Linked DNA regions of Homo sapiens: region 2 is linked to region 1. A link means that fine-mapping ties the variant in region 1 to the expression of a gene that starts in the linked region. Tissue or cell type: caudate. Region 1 holds a variant in brackets; the other region holds the start of a gene. All regions are shown on one strand. Distances are from middle to middle.

Region 1 (8,182 bases):
TGCCGTGGCTAAAAGGGGCCAAGGTACAACTTGGGCCATTGTTTCAGAGGGTTCAAGCCCCAAGCCTTGGAAGCTTGCACATGGTGTTGGGCCTGTGGGTGCACAGAAGTCAAGAATTGAGGTTTGGGGCCAGGTGTGGTGGCTCACGCCAGTAATCCCAGCACTTTGGGAGGCCAAGGCCAGCGGATCTCCTGAGGCCAGGAATTCAAGACCAGCCTGGCCAACATGGTGAAACTCTGTCTGTACTAAAAATACAAAAATTAGCCTGGCATGGTGGCAGGTGCCTGTAATCCCAGCTACCTGGGAGGCTGAAGTGGAGAATCACTTAAACCCAGGAGGTGGAGGTCACAGTGAGCCGAGATCATGCCACTGCACTCCAGCCTGGGCAACAGAGTGGGACTCCATGTCAGGAAAGAAAAAAAAAAAAAGAATTGAGGTTGGGAAATCTCTGCCTAGATTTCCGAGGATGTGTGGAAACACCTAGATGACCAGGCAGAAGTTGCTGCAAGGGCAGGCCCCTGATGGAGAACCTCTGTTAGGGCAGTGCAGAAGGGAAATGTGGGGCTGGAGCTCCCACACAGAGTCCCCACTTGGGCACTGCCTAGTGGAGCTGTGAGAAGAGGACAACTGCCCTTCAAATCCAAGAATGGTAGATCCACCGACAACTTGCACCTTGTGCCTGGAAAAGCCACAGGCACTCAAAGGCAGCCCAAGAAAGCAGCTGGGAGGGGGTCTGTACCCTGTAAAGTCACAGGGCCAGAGCTGCCCAAGGCCGTGGGAGTCCACATCTTGCACCAGCATGACCTGGGTGTGAGACATGGAGTCAAAGGAGGTCATTTTGGAACTTTAAGGTTTAATGACTGCCCTATTGGGTTTCAAACTTGCATGGGGCCTGTAGTCCCTTTGTTTTGGTCAATTTCTCCCATTTGGAATGGGTGTATTTACACAATGCCTGTACTTGCATTATATCTAGGAAATAACTTTCTTTTGATTTTACAGGTTCATGGGTGGAAAGGACTTGCCTTGTCTCAGATGAGACTTTGAACTTGGACTTTTGGGTTAATGATGGAATTAGTTAAGACGTTGGCAGACTGTTCGAAAGGCATGATTGTGTTTTGAAATATGAGGACATGAGATTTGAGAAGGACCAGGGGTGGAATAATATGGCCTGCCTCTGTTTCCCCACCCAAATCTCATCTTGAATTATAGTCCTTATTGTAATGCCCATATGTAGGGGGAGGGACTTACTGGGAGGTGATTGAATCATGGCGGTGGTTGCCCTGTGCTGTTCTCATGATAGTGAGTGAGTTCTCAGGCAATCTAATGGGTTTGTGAGGGGCTTTTACCCCCTTCACTCTGCACTTCTCTCATTCTTCTCCTTCCAGCCACCCTGTGAAGAAGGACCTGTTTTGCTTCCACTTCCACCATGATTGTAAGTTTCCCGAGGCCTCTGCATCCATGCTGAACTGTGAGTCAATTAAACCTCTTTCCTTTATAAATTACCCAGTCTCAGGCAATTCTTTATAGCAGTGTGAGAATGGATTAATACAGTCTAAAATAGATCTTTCTTTATATAACTTAAAAATTACAAGTGATGAAAAGCATTTGAGTTGGTTGGTTGTCAGTTTTTTCCCCCTCTTTTGGAGCTGTATTTAGTATAATAGAATATCTTAAATTAGTGGTCTTTTATAATAAATGAAATTGGGTGTACTTCGCCCCAGCATATTAGGGTTCCCTTGCTTCATGCCTTCCATGACAGTTGGTATTATTATATTTTAACATTTATGCCTAATGATTAAACATCTCCTTGTGGTCTTAATTTGCATTTTCTAATTACTCTAGAGACTTCGTCCTTTCACATGATTTTGGTCGTTAGTGGTTCCTCTTTGAAGTGCCTATTCATGTCTGTGTCCATTCGTTGCTTTGGGTGTTCCTCTCTTTCACACTAATTCATTAAAAGTATATATCCTGGATACTAATCCTTTATCAATTGCTGCAAGTATCTTCTTTCAGTGTGTGGCTTGCTTTTTCACTCCGTTTGTTGTTTTTTAATCAAAGTATAAGTTCTTAATTTTAACGCACTTTAACTGTCATTTTCCACCATGGCCCGAGTCGCGGAGTCCGCCTTCCTGGCAGAGCGTTGCGTGGTCACAGCTGAGGTCTGGGGAGCAGAGGCGGCGGGCGCTCCCGGGGGGAGCTGGGCGATTCCGGCGGGGGGAGGTGCCGATCGAGCGGCCGCCAGGCTGCTGGGGGAAGGAGGGCCAGGAGGCCGTGGGGGTCCTCGGCGCAGACTGGAGCCGCAGGCACCGCGCGCAGCCCTCGCCCGCATCGCCGAGGCCCCGCGGGCCCAGGAGCGAGAGGTCGGGCGCCCAGGACCAGAGGGCGTAGGCGAGAGCAGGCACCGCCTCCAAAGAACGCCCTCGCCCTCCCGCAGGCGATGGCGCCCGGCCCTGACCAAGCCAGCTGGGGGCATCTCCGCGGAGCTGAGCCGGGGAAGGGCCGGGCAGCCCAGAGGGTCAGAAGGGGGTTTTCTCCCGGGGTTGTGAGTTCTTTGGCCAGCGGCACCCTCCCCTGCCGGGGCCGCCCACCCGCAAGCCCCGCCCCGAAGGCTGGAGCTTCCCTGGGGGTGGGCGACGCCGAGACCACGCCCCGAAGGCGGGAGCGGCTTGGGGGCGGGATCTGGCCGCCCTCAGGGCTCCGGCGCCAAGTTCAGAGCCACGCGCAGTGCTCTTGGCCGGGAGGAGGCTGTGCTGCACCAGCACCTCTTGCTCCACATCTCCAGAGAGCCCAGGTGAGGCGCACCCTCCTGTCTGCAGGGACAGAGCCGCGAGCGGGCGCGGGCGGCGGGGTCCATCTCACTTCCACATCAGCCTTTCCCCAGGACAGGGTTGTTGAGTCCTGCCTTTGACTGTGGGGTCCTTTCCTTCCCAATGTCGCCAGCTTCCTCTCTCTCCCACGTCGTCTCCGAGTCCCATCCCCGTTTCTGTTCCCTTTCTCTTCTCTCACTTTTTCTCCTCTATCTCTTCTTTATTGTCTTCCTGTTTTCATTTTCTTCTGTGTCAGTCTCTCTCCCTCTCTCTTTTCCTCTCTTTGTTTATTCTTCTCCCCTACCTTCTCCCTCTCCCCCCTGTTTTTTCAGCACTCAAGAATTCTGCCTATGAATTTTTCTCCTAGGGTGACTTTCAGGCTGCAGTTGTTTTCCTCCCTCCCACTGTCTCTCCCGGGGTTTATCCTGTGTTGCTGTTATTCTCAGCCCGGGCTTGCGCTGGGCAGTAGGGTAAGAACCATGCATCAGCCCCAGATCCTTTCTCCAACAGATTATATCCAAAGATCTGGACATGTATCCTGTTCACTGCCTTTCCTGGGAAACAAAACAATACCAAATGATCACATTATAATGAGTTTTTAGAATGAGCTAAAAGAACATACCTGGTTTTAGAGACAAGGGGTTGATTGAATCCTTTCCTTGACATTTTGCCTTTACTAATAGACACAGACAGCACAGCAGGAAGCTAAGCCTTGCAGAAGCATTTAGGGGGCGTTCCCACCCACACCTGCCTTCTGGGCAGGCTATGCAATGCCAGGTGCAGGGGAGGGAGGGGACAGGATTCAGAGCAGGGTTGTAGGAAGACAGTGGGAGGCCAGGGCTTTGAAACATTTGAGGGAGCCTGGAAATAAGAAATTAACAGTAAATTTCTAAAATATGTAGTTGCCAATGC[C/A]ACTGATGTACAGAAATGAAATTAATTACTCCTGAGGGAGACATTAGACATTTTATGGCAGTAATTATGGCATTTGAAAGTAATGATTTTATGTACATTAGATAGGAGGGCCAAGGGGAAAATATTTCCTGTTAGTATCAAAGATTGTCGTAGATGCATAAGGGACGAACTCTAGAAAATCAAGTCTCATTCTTTTTGAGGGATAAAATAGAACTATATCGAGGCAATTTTTTGTTTCTTGGTTACAATGTAATCTTATCAGAGATATGTGATTTAGTTTTTAATGATATTTTATGACACATACATATTTATATGTTCAAACACACACAAATACATAATATATATGCACTAAGTTATAAAAGAGCCCTTGTTTGTTTGTAAAGATCTTAATTACCAATAAAGGTTGAAGCTTTCACTTCTTGGAAATAAGTTAACATGATATTGTAGTTTATTATGACCTTTAATGAAAATTCAACTAATTTACTTTTGATTGATACAGAAATGGAAATTTGGCCGTAGATAAATCACACAGAATTAAACAGAAATTAAGTATGATGAAGGTGCATTGCAGTGTGTTCAGTGAAAGAATTTGCATATGCTAGATATTTTGGACAAATTCATAGGTATGTGCATGGAACTGTGATTTGTGAGGCTTTTTTCTGGTTTAAAAAGTTAAATTGCCTTTATATCTAATCCCTGATCCCCAACATATGCGGATTCTGGGGGGAGGGATAAAAGACTTTGCAAATGATTTAGAATCATCGTGTCTGCTTTGCTTGGCAGATTTCTTTTCAGACATCCAAGAGGTGGCAACTTTTGTTTGAAACATATAATCACACCAATTATTTAAAAAAAAAGACAAACTTAAATATTTTTAAACTTATTTTTCCTCATTAGTGGTCTGTGCCTCTATAAGAACATCATTGTCTTTTTATCCTTAGATGATGCTATTGTTGGAACCTGGGAAGGTCGGAAGGAATAGCTGAGGTAAAATCATGGACTTTTTGCCTGAAGGCTGCCAGTGGAATTGGGACCACTGTCTCAGGCTCCACCTTTATTCTCTAGTTGTATCAGGAAAAGAGCTGCTGTTCCTTGTGCTCTTGCTATCTGGCATGCACAGAGCCCTGTTGAGTCCTGTCCGTGAGTGCCTGAAGTGAAGATCACCATTCTTGTTTTACTTATGAAGAGATGGAGGCCCAGAGTGTTTGTCTGAGCTCAGGCAGGTAGTGGCAGGGTTGATTTGGAACACAAGTAGTGCCCTGGCGCCTGAGTGACCAGGGCTAATTCAGTCCCTTTATGTGACTTCCATGTTGCTGCAGCCCTGGCAAATATAACGTCTAAAATATCACTCCACACAGCACCAGCCACTGCCTATTGGCATTGTTTGGCAGAACACTGCTCCCTGTTCTATGTCCTGGCCATCCTCAGTCATATTCATGGCAGACTCTCAATCTGCACAGCAGGGCCCCATTGAAGCATTGGATCTGCCCTCTGCTTTCACTGGCCCTGCTTCTGCACAGTCTCAGACATCTGAGTGGATGATGAGATCACATCCACCCCTATGAGGGTCGACGTGGCCAAGTTATGTTGCACTAGGGCCACTCTCCCTGCTTCCATGGGTACTGGCTGTGTTCGCAGTCTCCTGCACTTGGCTTTCCTCGAATGCAGCAGGCATTGCTGCTAGAGGGGTCCAGGCGTAGCTGGCCACAGAGCCTGTAGGGGCTGACCAGGAATTGCTCATCTCCCCAGTGCCACCAGCCAGCCTCTGGGAAAGCCTGGATCACCTTCAGTGTTTAATTTCCTCAGTGTGCCAGAGCCAGGAGGATTCCTGGAAACAGGTGTATTCCCTTTCTTAGGAAACCCCAGGACCTCACAATCCAAATGCAGAAAAGGCCCGTAGATGATTGTCCTCTGGAATCTTCCAAAAGGGTCTGGGAAGCTTCTGCAGAGACTAGGGATACCAAAGGATTAGAAGACAGGAGGTATTTTCTGCTCTTGTGTGTTTTAACTGAAGAGAAAAGCAGATGCAGCAAAGCACTGCTTGGGGGGAGCGGGTGGGGGTACATGGTGTCTCTGAATAAGATCTGGTGCCTGACCTGCAGCTCAGAACAGCTTGAGGCTGGCCAGTTGGCTTGGGTTAGGGAGTGACTTCAGACATCCCAGGAAAAAGAGGTTATCCAGATGTTTGCCAAGAGTTCTTTCTTCTGTAGGTGGAGCAGGAAGGAGAAAAATGCCCAGGCTGTTTGGTCATTTATTAAACACTGTTATGCACTGGTCCCTGAGAGCTCAGGAGTAATGGGAAGGCTGCCATGGAGTGGACTCTGTCCCTTTGCACTCAGTGCGATAAGAAGTGATACCCCTAATGTTTACTGAGCCAGGTTCCTTAGCACTTTCTCTATATTAATCCTTCTAATCTTTCCCACAACCCAGTGAAGAAAACACCAAGGTGACCCTCTTTATAGATCAGAAAACAGGCCTGGAGGGGACCCACGCCTTGCCCAAGGTCACAGGTTGGATACAGCAGAGCTGGCCTCCAACCGTGGAGCCCGTGCACTTAACATCTATTTGGATGGAAGGCTCGAAGGTTACCTGAGACAACCTGGTCAAGGTGATAATGTGGGAGAATGTGGCCAGTGGTTCCCAGATGAGTGAATGATCAGTGTGCAGTCACCAGAGGATGGGTGATAAACCGAGAACCACAAGCTCTTAACACTGTGGGGTGGGCGAGGCTTCATCTCCCAGGATGCAGCACTTGCTGAGTTGGGCAACAGGGGACCCTGGTTGATGGCCCAGGTTGGTTGGAAGCCTTTGGGAGATGTGCTCTGTGTTGGTGGGGAAGGCCAGGCATGGTTAGATCCCCTGTAGACTTGGGGAGCTCAGTTTCAGAAAGTTTCAAAGATCATCACTTGATTTCTGTGATTCACGTGATCTGAGGGCTCTGAAAGTGGTGGGTGAGTCCTGGAATTAAATCTGTTTTTTTCAAGTAGGAAAGACATGGGGTGGCAATGAGAGACATCTGTGTGGCTCAGAAAGATGTCTTGCTGAGGTCAGAGGGACAAGAGCCAAGGAGAACAAGAGGAGCCCTTCCCAGGACACTCACAATGACAGAGTGACGAGGGCCAGTAAAGAGTGTCAGGGGGTGAGAGCCCGGGTGTGAACTGAACCTACTGAGGAGAGCTGACGACCACAAAGCATCTTTTCATATCATGTTCGGAGCAAGGAGAACAAGGGCTTCATAGATCCATCGCCGTCTAGGGCAGCTGGTGTCTGTGAAGGGGAGGAAGGCACAGCTCCACTGTGCCCACAGCGGTCTGGACAGAGGAGGATCTGCAGGTGCAAAGGGCGCAGGCAGGTTCCCGGAGGAAAGCAGGAGCCACGTAGCGTGGGCTGCAGTGTGTGTGCTCAGGGCTCTGACCAAGAGAATGCCCTGGCCAGGGTATAGCATGACCTGGAATGAGATACCCCCATCTGAGGTGCTGTCTGAGAGGTGTTGGAAATGAAGCCCGGAGGTGGAAGAGACTCAAATCTGATGTTGGCCCTGGGAAAGATCCTAGACTAAGAAGAAGGCTGTGAGTCTGTGGGCAAAGGAGAGACGTGCATGAGGAGCTGGCGGGGGCTCCCTGGGGACAAGTCATGCCAGCCTCACGTCATTTTCCACCTTGCAGGTCTTCGGTCTGGCCCTTGTTCTGTTGGGGTTCTGGAGGACGTGCTGTGCCCTGGCCTTACTGACCTTACTCCATGCAGTGCTGATGCATGCGACAGCGGTGACCCTCCAGGGTCCCAGGTGGGATGAAAGGTCCCCAGCTAGTTCCTAGTTTCATCTCCTCATTTTCTCCATCCTCCTGCTCCTTCTTATTAAGATCTGGATGTTAACATTGATGGAGTGTGAAGCTGGGTGGGATATTTAATTCAGCAGTTGGCGGTGTCAGGATCCACAGTGGTCTCTGAAAGCTGAGATGCTGCCCTGAGTTTATCGGGATGGCATTTGGCAGATTGGAGATAAGTGCATCTGAATTGAGACACATAGCTTCCCTCATATGGTTTTTATGAAAATGAAATGAACAAGGTGCCTTATTTCATTTGTTAATACTATTGTTTGTCATGTAGATACTTACGTAGCCGATAAATGGTAACTTCTATTCTGATACCCTGAAGCATCCTGATAGCAAATGTTCCATCCTGCTGTAAAGGAGAACTGGTTTCTTCCAATTAGTCATACATGAGTAGGTCTGGGATGGCCTGGAGAGACAGCTTAGCCAGAGCGCATTTTACAGATGGAAACCTGAGGCTCAGAGAGGTTGAGTGCTTTGCTCGGGAACACAGAGAGGAGTGATGTTTCTGCCTCTGCCTCTTTGGGAGACACTGGCCGACATTCACCTCTGACGTCAGGCACCCCCTCTGAGGAATCCACTCAAAAAGGGCATCAGGAGTGGTGTGGAGCCTGCTGCACCACGTGGTTTGCG
Region 2 (8,182 bases), 35 kb after region 1:
TTGCGGGTTTTGCCATTGAAAGTACTTTTGCACCAACCTAATATGAATGTTCTACAGAGGTGTTCAGCAACCCCAGGGTCACAGAGAGTGGATGGAACAGGTTGAGAAAGAGGAAAGGACTTGACCGGTCAAAACTTAAACGTGAGAACAAATCTAAAAGCCATTGTCACGCACTGTGCACAGAGCCCTGCATGTGCGGACAATGGGTCAACTCACTCCCGGGACTGGGTTCAGCCAGGTCTCTCTTGGGTCTCACCTGCATGGGCACAATTCCAGGAATGCGGTCCTTGGCATTCTCAGGGATATGGGCTGCCTTCAGGTGTGGGTCTCCGGAGAGCATCTGCAGGTCAGCCCCCAGGATCTCGGCTAGGGCCACTTCTGAGGTCACCCTGGAGTAGCGGCTCTGCAGACCGCTCAGTTTGGTGGCCATCTTGGCCCCCAGCTCGGCAGAGGCATAGTTATCAGCCACCAGCTTCCCGGCCGTCTGCAGCACCGTGGGCACCTTGGCACGCAGAGCCACTATGTCCTGGGCTATGGAAAGGGCTTCGCTCATGGGCACAGTGATGTCGGGCTCCACACCAGCCAGGTCCCAGGCCTTGCCTGTGGTGGCACTCATGGCCATCTGGGTGGGCATGGATGCATATAAGGGGCTGCTGCCCACCTGGTAGATGCCCACAGAGAGTGCGCCTCCGGCCGTGGGCTCCCCAATGACCGTGGCCCGCTGCAGGTCCTGCATGGTGTGTGCAAAGGCCTCGGCCGCAGAGCCACTGGTGTGGCTCATCAGGATGTAGAGGTCCTTGTGTGAGCCGTAGCGCTGGCCGGCGACCTGGGGCAAGGTCCACACCTCCGTGACTTTTGAGGTGGCCCTGTCAAAGACAGAATACAGGTGCTGGCGGGGCTCTGCCTCAAAGAAGTAGGAGCAGAGCAGCGGGATGGCCGTGGAGTAGCTGCCAGGGTTGTAGCGCAGGTCGATCACCAGCGCAGCCGTGTCCACCAGCTGTTGCCATACCAGCCGCACCAGCTGTGGCCCCACGGCCTTCACTGTCTCCAGTTCAGCCATGGCGTCAAAACGCAGGTAGCCCAGCTGGCCGGGCAGCACCTCTGTCTTGAACAGGGCCTCAATAAGGTAGGTGAGCTCCTCTGGAGAGGGGACAGCAGGGGGTGGTGGGGGTGCTTCCTCTACCACCAGCTCGCCAGGGCTGTGGAACACTAGCAAGCGGTGGTCCCCAGACACCTCCTGGAGGTCTGCTGTGAGCTGAGAGGCCAGAGACTCCAAGTCCACAGCTGTGCGGTAGGCGCCCTGGGCCAGCTTGGCCCGCAGGAGGGCACTGGTCTGCCCCACGACCTCTGGCCGAGCATAGTGGGCCTCCAGCAGGTGCCCTGTGCCCTCCACCAAGGCCCCCAGGCTTTGGTGGAACTCCAGCACTTCCTGGGCTTTGTCCAGGGCCTCCTCGGCCAGCACGATGGCATCGGGCACCACTCCACCACCCAGCCAGGCCTCGCCGTGATTGTCGATGAAGGTGAGGACCGGCACGGTGAGCGCGAGGCTGCCTTCGGGTGTGTCCAGCAGCGGCACCGTGCGGGTGTGCAGCAGGTTGCCCGCGGTGATCTCACCTACCAGTGTGGCCCAGCCCAGCGACTGCATAAGGAAGGCGAACTCCTCCGCGGCCGTGGCGGTGCGGTGGCTGGTGAGCAGATACACCCCACGTTGGGTGCTGTAGCGTGGGCCCGGGAGCTCCATGTGGCTGAAGTGCTCCTGCGTGATGTTGGTGCGGCGATCATAGGTGGTGAAGAGGTGCACGGGGCCGGCCTCAGGGCCCTGGAAGTAGGACAGGAGCAGGGGCACAGCAGAGGATGGCCCTCCAGGGTTGTGGCGCAGGTCCATGATGAGGTGCTCCGTGTCCTGTAGCGGCTCCCACACCTGGCGCAGGACATATGGGGCCAACACACCCAGGACGGAGGCGTCAGCAAAACTATCGAAGCGCAGGTAGCCCACATTGCCTGGCAGCACCGACACCTGGAACACAGAGTCCACCAGTGCTTGCCGGATAGCCTCGTCCTCAGGCAACTCTGGGGCCACCCCTGGTGAGTCTTCGGCTGCAGCGTCGGGCGCGGGCCAAGAAGGAGTTTCTGTGGGCCCGATGGCTCGCACCAGGAGCCTGGGATCCTCAGACGCAGCCTGCAGGCCGGCATTGAGCTTGGTGACCAGATCTTCCTCGGAGACCACCGTGGAGAAGTCCATGCTGGCCAAGTGCTGCAGCAGGGTGGGCACACGGTCCACCAGCGTGTAGTAGTCCTTCAGGACCTCCTGGAGGCAGTGGACTACCCCTGGAAGGGCGCTGCGCAGAGTGAGGATGGCCAGGGCTTTCTCCAGGGCCTGCTCGGCCGGAGTCCCCACACAGGGCAGCACCCCGCTGCCCTCCCACGTCTGGCTGCCTCCACCAAGGGGCCCCAGGGACCTGGACACGGGCACCGTGAAGAAGAAGTCAGACTCGCCTATCCTCAGCTTCCGGAGGTCCAGGGCCCCTCCCCCAGTCCGCTCGCCCACCACGATGGCCCTGCGCATCTGCTTAAGGATGTGCGCGATGTCCTCGGCCACGCCCCTGGTCTGGCTGCTGGTGAGGACCACCACATCCTTGTCGGCACCGTACCTTTCTCCCAGGACCTGGGGCAAGGTCCAGATCTCCGTGGTGGTGTTGGAGGGGCGGTTGTAGATAGTGTCCACGTGCAGGATGGTGTTCCCTGGGTGCAGGTAGGAGATGATGTAGGGAATGCCAGAGACCTGGCCTCCTGTGCAGTGCCGGAGATCCAGCACTAAGGCGGAGGTGCCCATGAGATTCCCCCACACGTGGGCCACCAGGAACTCCCCCATCATGCTCAGCACCTCCTGGCCCGGGACGCTGTCCACCCGCAGGTAGCCCACATTACCCTCCAGAACCTCATGGCGGAGGCCCCTTTGCAGCCAGGCAAGCAGTTCCTCTTCTGAGAGGCTGGTGAGTGCTGGGACTTGTGGGGGAGGCTCGGGGGTGCTGGGCTCATAGGAGATGACCAGGCGAGGATCGTTCAGGGAGCTCTGCACCCCGGCTGTCAGCACACTGGCCAGCGTCTGCGGGTCTGAGATGCTCAGAATCTCATGGCTCTTGATGGCCTGCTGGATGGCTTCCTGCATGCCCAGCAGGTTCTCCGGGAAGCAGTAGTTATCCAAGAGGACCTTGGCCATGTCCAGCACCAGGCTTGGCTGGAACAGGTGTGTGGGGCCAGCCAGGCCACAGAGCAGCACGGACATGAGCAGAACCCATTCTCTCATCATGGGGACCCAGGGGGAGGCCTGGCTCCTGCACAAAAGCTCCCTGGACTGTGTGCAAGGCCGTGGCCCTGCTCTGTGCAGCTGCCTTCCGCCCTTGTCCTTCTCAGCTGGTGGACAGAAGGTCTGGGGCTAAACTCCTGAGTTGGGGCAAGGCTTCCAGCTCCAGTAAGCCTTTAATCCTGTCTAATTCAAGCACATCAACCCTGGGTATCGGGGAGGAGTGGCCAGGGTGGTTTGACCCAGAAGGTACATTGCATCTTATCTTGCTGTGTTGTGTCTGCATATCATAACATTAATCACTGCCATTATTTTAGTTCCTGCTACATGCCAGACACTGTGCTCCATCCTTTACAAGCTGACAGTTTCCACCAGAGCCTTGCAAAGTCCAGTTATTAACTTGCAAGTCCTCCTTGGAGAACTGTTCTGCCACTGTCTCTCCCGTGGCCTCAGGGAAATGTCTTAATTACTTATTGTGTAGATTAAATGAGAAAATATGTGTAAAGCACTTCTTCCCAGTACCCAGTAAGTAGGAAGCACTCATTACTGGTAAGTTATCTGTATTAGATATTACCTCTGTTTCATAGCTAAAAAACAAAAAAACAAAAAAACAAAACAAAACAAAGCAAAGCAAAACAAAACAGGCCAGAGAGTTCTGTAACTAATAGAAGCCCATCGTTTTAGGTGTGGACAGATAGGGGGTGCAGCAAGAAGAAGTCCTTGGGGCTACAATTGGCCCATACAGTGCAGAGGCTGAGTCTGAGGCTGGCATCAGCCTCAGAGCTTGAGATTTATTTCTATGTCCCTTTAATGCCTCCAGGGAACAGAACGGGTCCCCCTACAGCTTTCTAATGCTGGGAATGATGTGTCTGGACCACCATGTAGGGTGTGGAGTGTAGAGGCGCCCACCTTCCAGACATCACAGGACTAGTGTTCCCATTCAAATGAGGTTAGCTCTGAGAGTTAATGGCTAGAGGGGACTCCTGCTTCTTGAAGGCTCAGCCCACAGCCTGCAGTTCGCAGGGAGAATCAAGCAGGAAGTCTTGGGTCTCCGTGGTCCCAGGCTTCACATGGAATCCAGATCATTCCTCCTGACTGCATAAAGCACAAGAAACAGGGAAAGGTAGACTGCTGAACTCTTCAGATCCCAGCTCCTGCCACTTCTTATAGAAATAATGTGGGTGCTGCTTGCAACTGACTGGCTGTAGAAATCCAAGAAGTCCTGCTATGGGGTCGGAACCTGGAAGCCCTGCTTTGCCGCTGAATGCCTCTGGAGATGGGCACTTTCCTCACTTAACAGACAGACAACTACGGCCCAGAGAGTGGTCGCAAGGCCAGGGCAGAGCGTTGGGAGAGCTGTCCCAAGCTGGCTCCAGCAACACCGCCTTGGCTGAGCGGGCAGCAGGCAGGCGCCCCTGTGTGCCTCAGTAGGCAGCTGGAGAAGGTGGTCTCAGGGACGTGGGCTTTCTCTACACAGCTGAGACCCACAATCTGCTCTTTGGAAATCATTATCTGAGGATGTTTACCAACTGCTTTATGAAGGCCAAAGAGGTCAATTAGCTAAAACAAACATATTTTTAGCTCATTAGGATTTGTGTAATGCTCAAGTGACATATGGTCACATCACTCCACCGTATGCAGCCAATGGAAGTGAGCCTGATTTACGATGAGAATGGGGTGGGGCTGGGATGCTGCCAACACCTCCGGATGAATGCACTCCTTGCATATCCTTAGCCCTGCTGGGAAGCCTGGGCCTTCTCCTCTGCCTCCACTTGGAGAATCACAGTTCTGAGCATGCACTTCCGTGTCCTCAGAGGGCACTTGTCTGCCATTGCTTGAGTCCAGGCAAAGCTTCTGGCCCAGAAAGGGCTTGGGGGAGAACAGGAGTAAGACTGTCTTTGGGGAAAGGATTCCCTGGAGTCTTACTAAGATGTAGTTTCAGGATAGGATTGTCTGGACCTATCACTGGGATTTGATTTGTGTGGCTAGCCCAGAGCCTTAAGAAGGACGTGAGAAAAAATCAGACTGTTGCAAGTCCCTGGGGTGCCTGAGTTGGATGGGGCATGGGTAGAGAAGCAGTGCTTCTCCTGTGGGTAAGGCCCAAGCAGGTGGAAGAGCAAGTTCTGTCCTCAGAGTTCTCCAGACTCCAGGGGGCCAGGGTGTCCTTGCCCCCAGGCCGTGGGGGGATGTAGGAAGATGGCAGCCAGCCTCCTTAGCTCATGAGGAGAATATGTTCTGGGTAAGTCCCCAGAGTGAAAGCCGAGAGCTCTACATCTTCCCATCCAGACCCTGACAACTGTAGGGCCAGGGTGGGTTCAGAGAGTCCACTTGATCTTGGGGGCTGAGTTTTGGAGTTGGAGGGGGCTGGAAGGCCCTGCACCCCCTCACTTATACAAATGTCCTGTGGGCAGAGCTGTGCAGGGTAGCTTAGAAGCCATCCTGAACTGAACTGGTGAGAACTGAATAGGTGAGTGGGTGAGATCTTGATAAGGTGACATGAGACCTTGATCAGGCGACATGAGACCATGATTAGGTGACTCGACTGCTCTGAGCCTTGGCTTCTTCAAAAGGGAAAACAGAATAAGGAGAAAAGCCTCAGTATTGCTGGAGGATTAGGTGTTTCCATCCTAGAAGTTATGAAAGGAAGTTGAGGACGTAGGAGTTGGTGAGGGGCAGCTTGGGTCTGCCTGGGATTAGAACACCCCTGTGGTATTAGGGAAAGTCATTCCAAGAGGCTGGGGCTGCCCTGGAGACCTGGAGTCCTAGGGCTTCTTAGGCTCCAAACCTTTCCTGGGCCTCTACATATCTAAGGAGAAATGACCAGACCCAGGCTCCAGAGCCCAGCCCTGCAGCACCTGCAGCGCAGGTTAAGAGGGGGACAATGACACATCAGGGCTGCTGCAGGGATGGTCAGGGAGCAAGCGGAGCTGGGCAGTACAGGAAGGAGCGTCTTGCCTATTGCATCACAGATGTTGTCTTTTCAGTGGCCAAAGCCCTCGTCTGTCTATTGTTTTATGTTAGTTTTCCCCTCGATGTTTTATAATGGAAATGTTCAAGTGGTACAGCAAATATCTATATGCCATCATTTAAAGAAATGCTTTGACATGTTCACATTTTAAAGAACTTATCCGAGCAGATAGCGATTCATGAATCTGGTAGCTCCCCACAAGAGGCAGTTTGGGGCTCTGCAAGGGAGCACAAGGGGAGGCTTCCACAGGGTGAAGGCAGAAGTGGAATAAATATTACAGATGCTTTGGTTGCTTAGCGTTTCGGCCCTTGCATGATTTGGGACATCCTAGTGGAAAGTTCGAGACCATGCAACTGATGTCCAGTTGGCCATCAGTGGTTGGCTGGACTTAAGCTTCGGTTTCTTTTAAATTAGCTGCTTACAGTAAATGAGTCTGAGTTAGATTTCAATTTGCTCTTGTAGGAAATCAGGGCGTTAGAGCCACCTTAGTTTAATGGCTGCCTCCCTAGATTCTACCACAGACATTTTATTACCCCTTTCTCATCTCAGCTCCGCCTCACTAGCCTCTTCTACCCTGCAAGCCTCCTCTCCCCTGCAAACCAACACATTTTTAAATGCACTTCAAAGCAAATTGAACCTTGACTTTTTATTCATTTTATGTATTTTCATTTTACTTTTTTCTTAAATCAGAGGAGTAAAACATACTCATTTTTGTAGAAATGTGCAAACAAACCTTTTCCAAAGCTTTTAAAATCCAGCCTCCTTTAGTAACAAATAATCAGCATTGAATGTCTAGCCATTGTCACCTGTGTCTGTGTACACGCAGGGAGGTGCACATATAGGAGAGATCCATCCACACATCTATGGGCACCCCATCCATTTGTCCATCCTATTGTCAGCCGTTTATTAGCATAGATGATAATTTGCATTTTGTTTTACTCACTTAAACATACAACACAAACATCCTTCCCAGTTGAAGTATACTCATTAAACTCATCCTTTTAATGGCTACATGTAGTCTGGGGATCCCTAATCTAAAAATCTGAAATCTGAAATGCTCCAAAACCTGAAACTTTTTGAGCACCGACACAACACCACAAGTGAAAAATTTCACACATAAGTACTTAACACCAACTTTGTTTCATGCAAAAAATTATTTAAAATATTGATATAGTTACCTTTAGGCTATGCGTATAAGGCATACATGAGGCATAAATACTGTGTTTAGACTAGAGTCCCACTCCCAGGATATCTCATTATGTACATACAGATATTCCAAAATCCAAAAAGAATCTGAAATCTAAAACACTTCTTTCTCCAAAACTTTCAGATAATGGATACTCATCCTGTAGTAGTTCTTGATGATTTACTGACCCTTTGTGAGGCATATTTTAAGCTTTTTCTGTTTTTACTTCAATATTGTTTCAGCGATATTGCGATAAATGTTTTTGAAAACGCGTTCTTAAGGGCCTAAGGTGCTTTTTTGTTTGTGGATAAATTCCCAAACTTGGGCTTGCTGAGTCAAAGGGCATATACACTTGTTTGTTTCCTGTATTGTATTTTTTCAGTACCTTTTAAATTATCTAATAAGTACGTCCTTTTTTCACTACTTAATTGATGTATAATTAACATATAATGAACCTATTTGAAGTGTATCATTTAGTCAGTTTTGACACATGCATACCCCCCCGAAATTCTCACCGCCACCTGGGCAACATATATTGCTGTCGCCCTCAAGTTTTCCTGGTGCCCCTTTGCTCCCCAGTCCCCTCTGCATTCCCATATCCAGACAAACATGGATTTACTTGCTGCCAACACTATAGATTAGCTTGTAGCTTCTAGAATTTGCTATAAAAGAAATGATACCCTTTTTTTATCTGTTTTCTTTTGCCCAGCATAATGATTGTGGG

Which allele goes with the higher level. Positions count from the first base shown, and alleles are read on the strand shown. Sizes are in standard deviations (SD) of each study's normalised expression.
With allele C in place of A in region 1, the expression in caudate of the gene that starts at base 3,432 in region 2 is lower (small effect, 0.35 SD a copy in GTEx).

The links. PIP is the estimated chance that this variant, and not a neighbour inherited with it, causes the effect.
Region 2: it holds the start of RBP3, and the variant in region 1 is fine-mapped to the expression of RBP3 in caudate (GTEx, PIP 0.98).

The regions. Positions count from the first base shown.
Region 1 is chr10:47,378,829-47,387,010 of GRCh38, reverse strand. ZNF488 (zinc finger protein 488) reads left to right here and starts at 2,718. Exons shown (of 2, transcript NM_153034.4): 1 at 2,718-2,791. RefSeq lists a silencer at 2,270-2,749 and an enhancer at 2,312-2,811. The variant C/A (reference allele first, on the strand shown) is at 3,720.
Region 2 is chr10:47,343,613-47,351,794 of GRCh38, reverse strand. RBP3 (retinol binding protein 3) reads right to left here and starts at 3,432. Exons shown (of 4, transcript NM_002900.3): 1 at 257-3,432. The coding sequence starts at 3,310.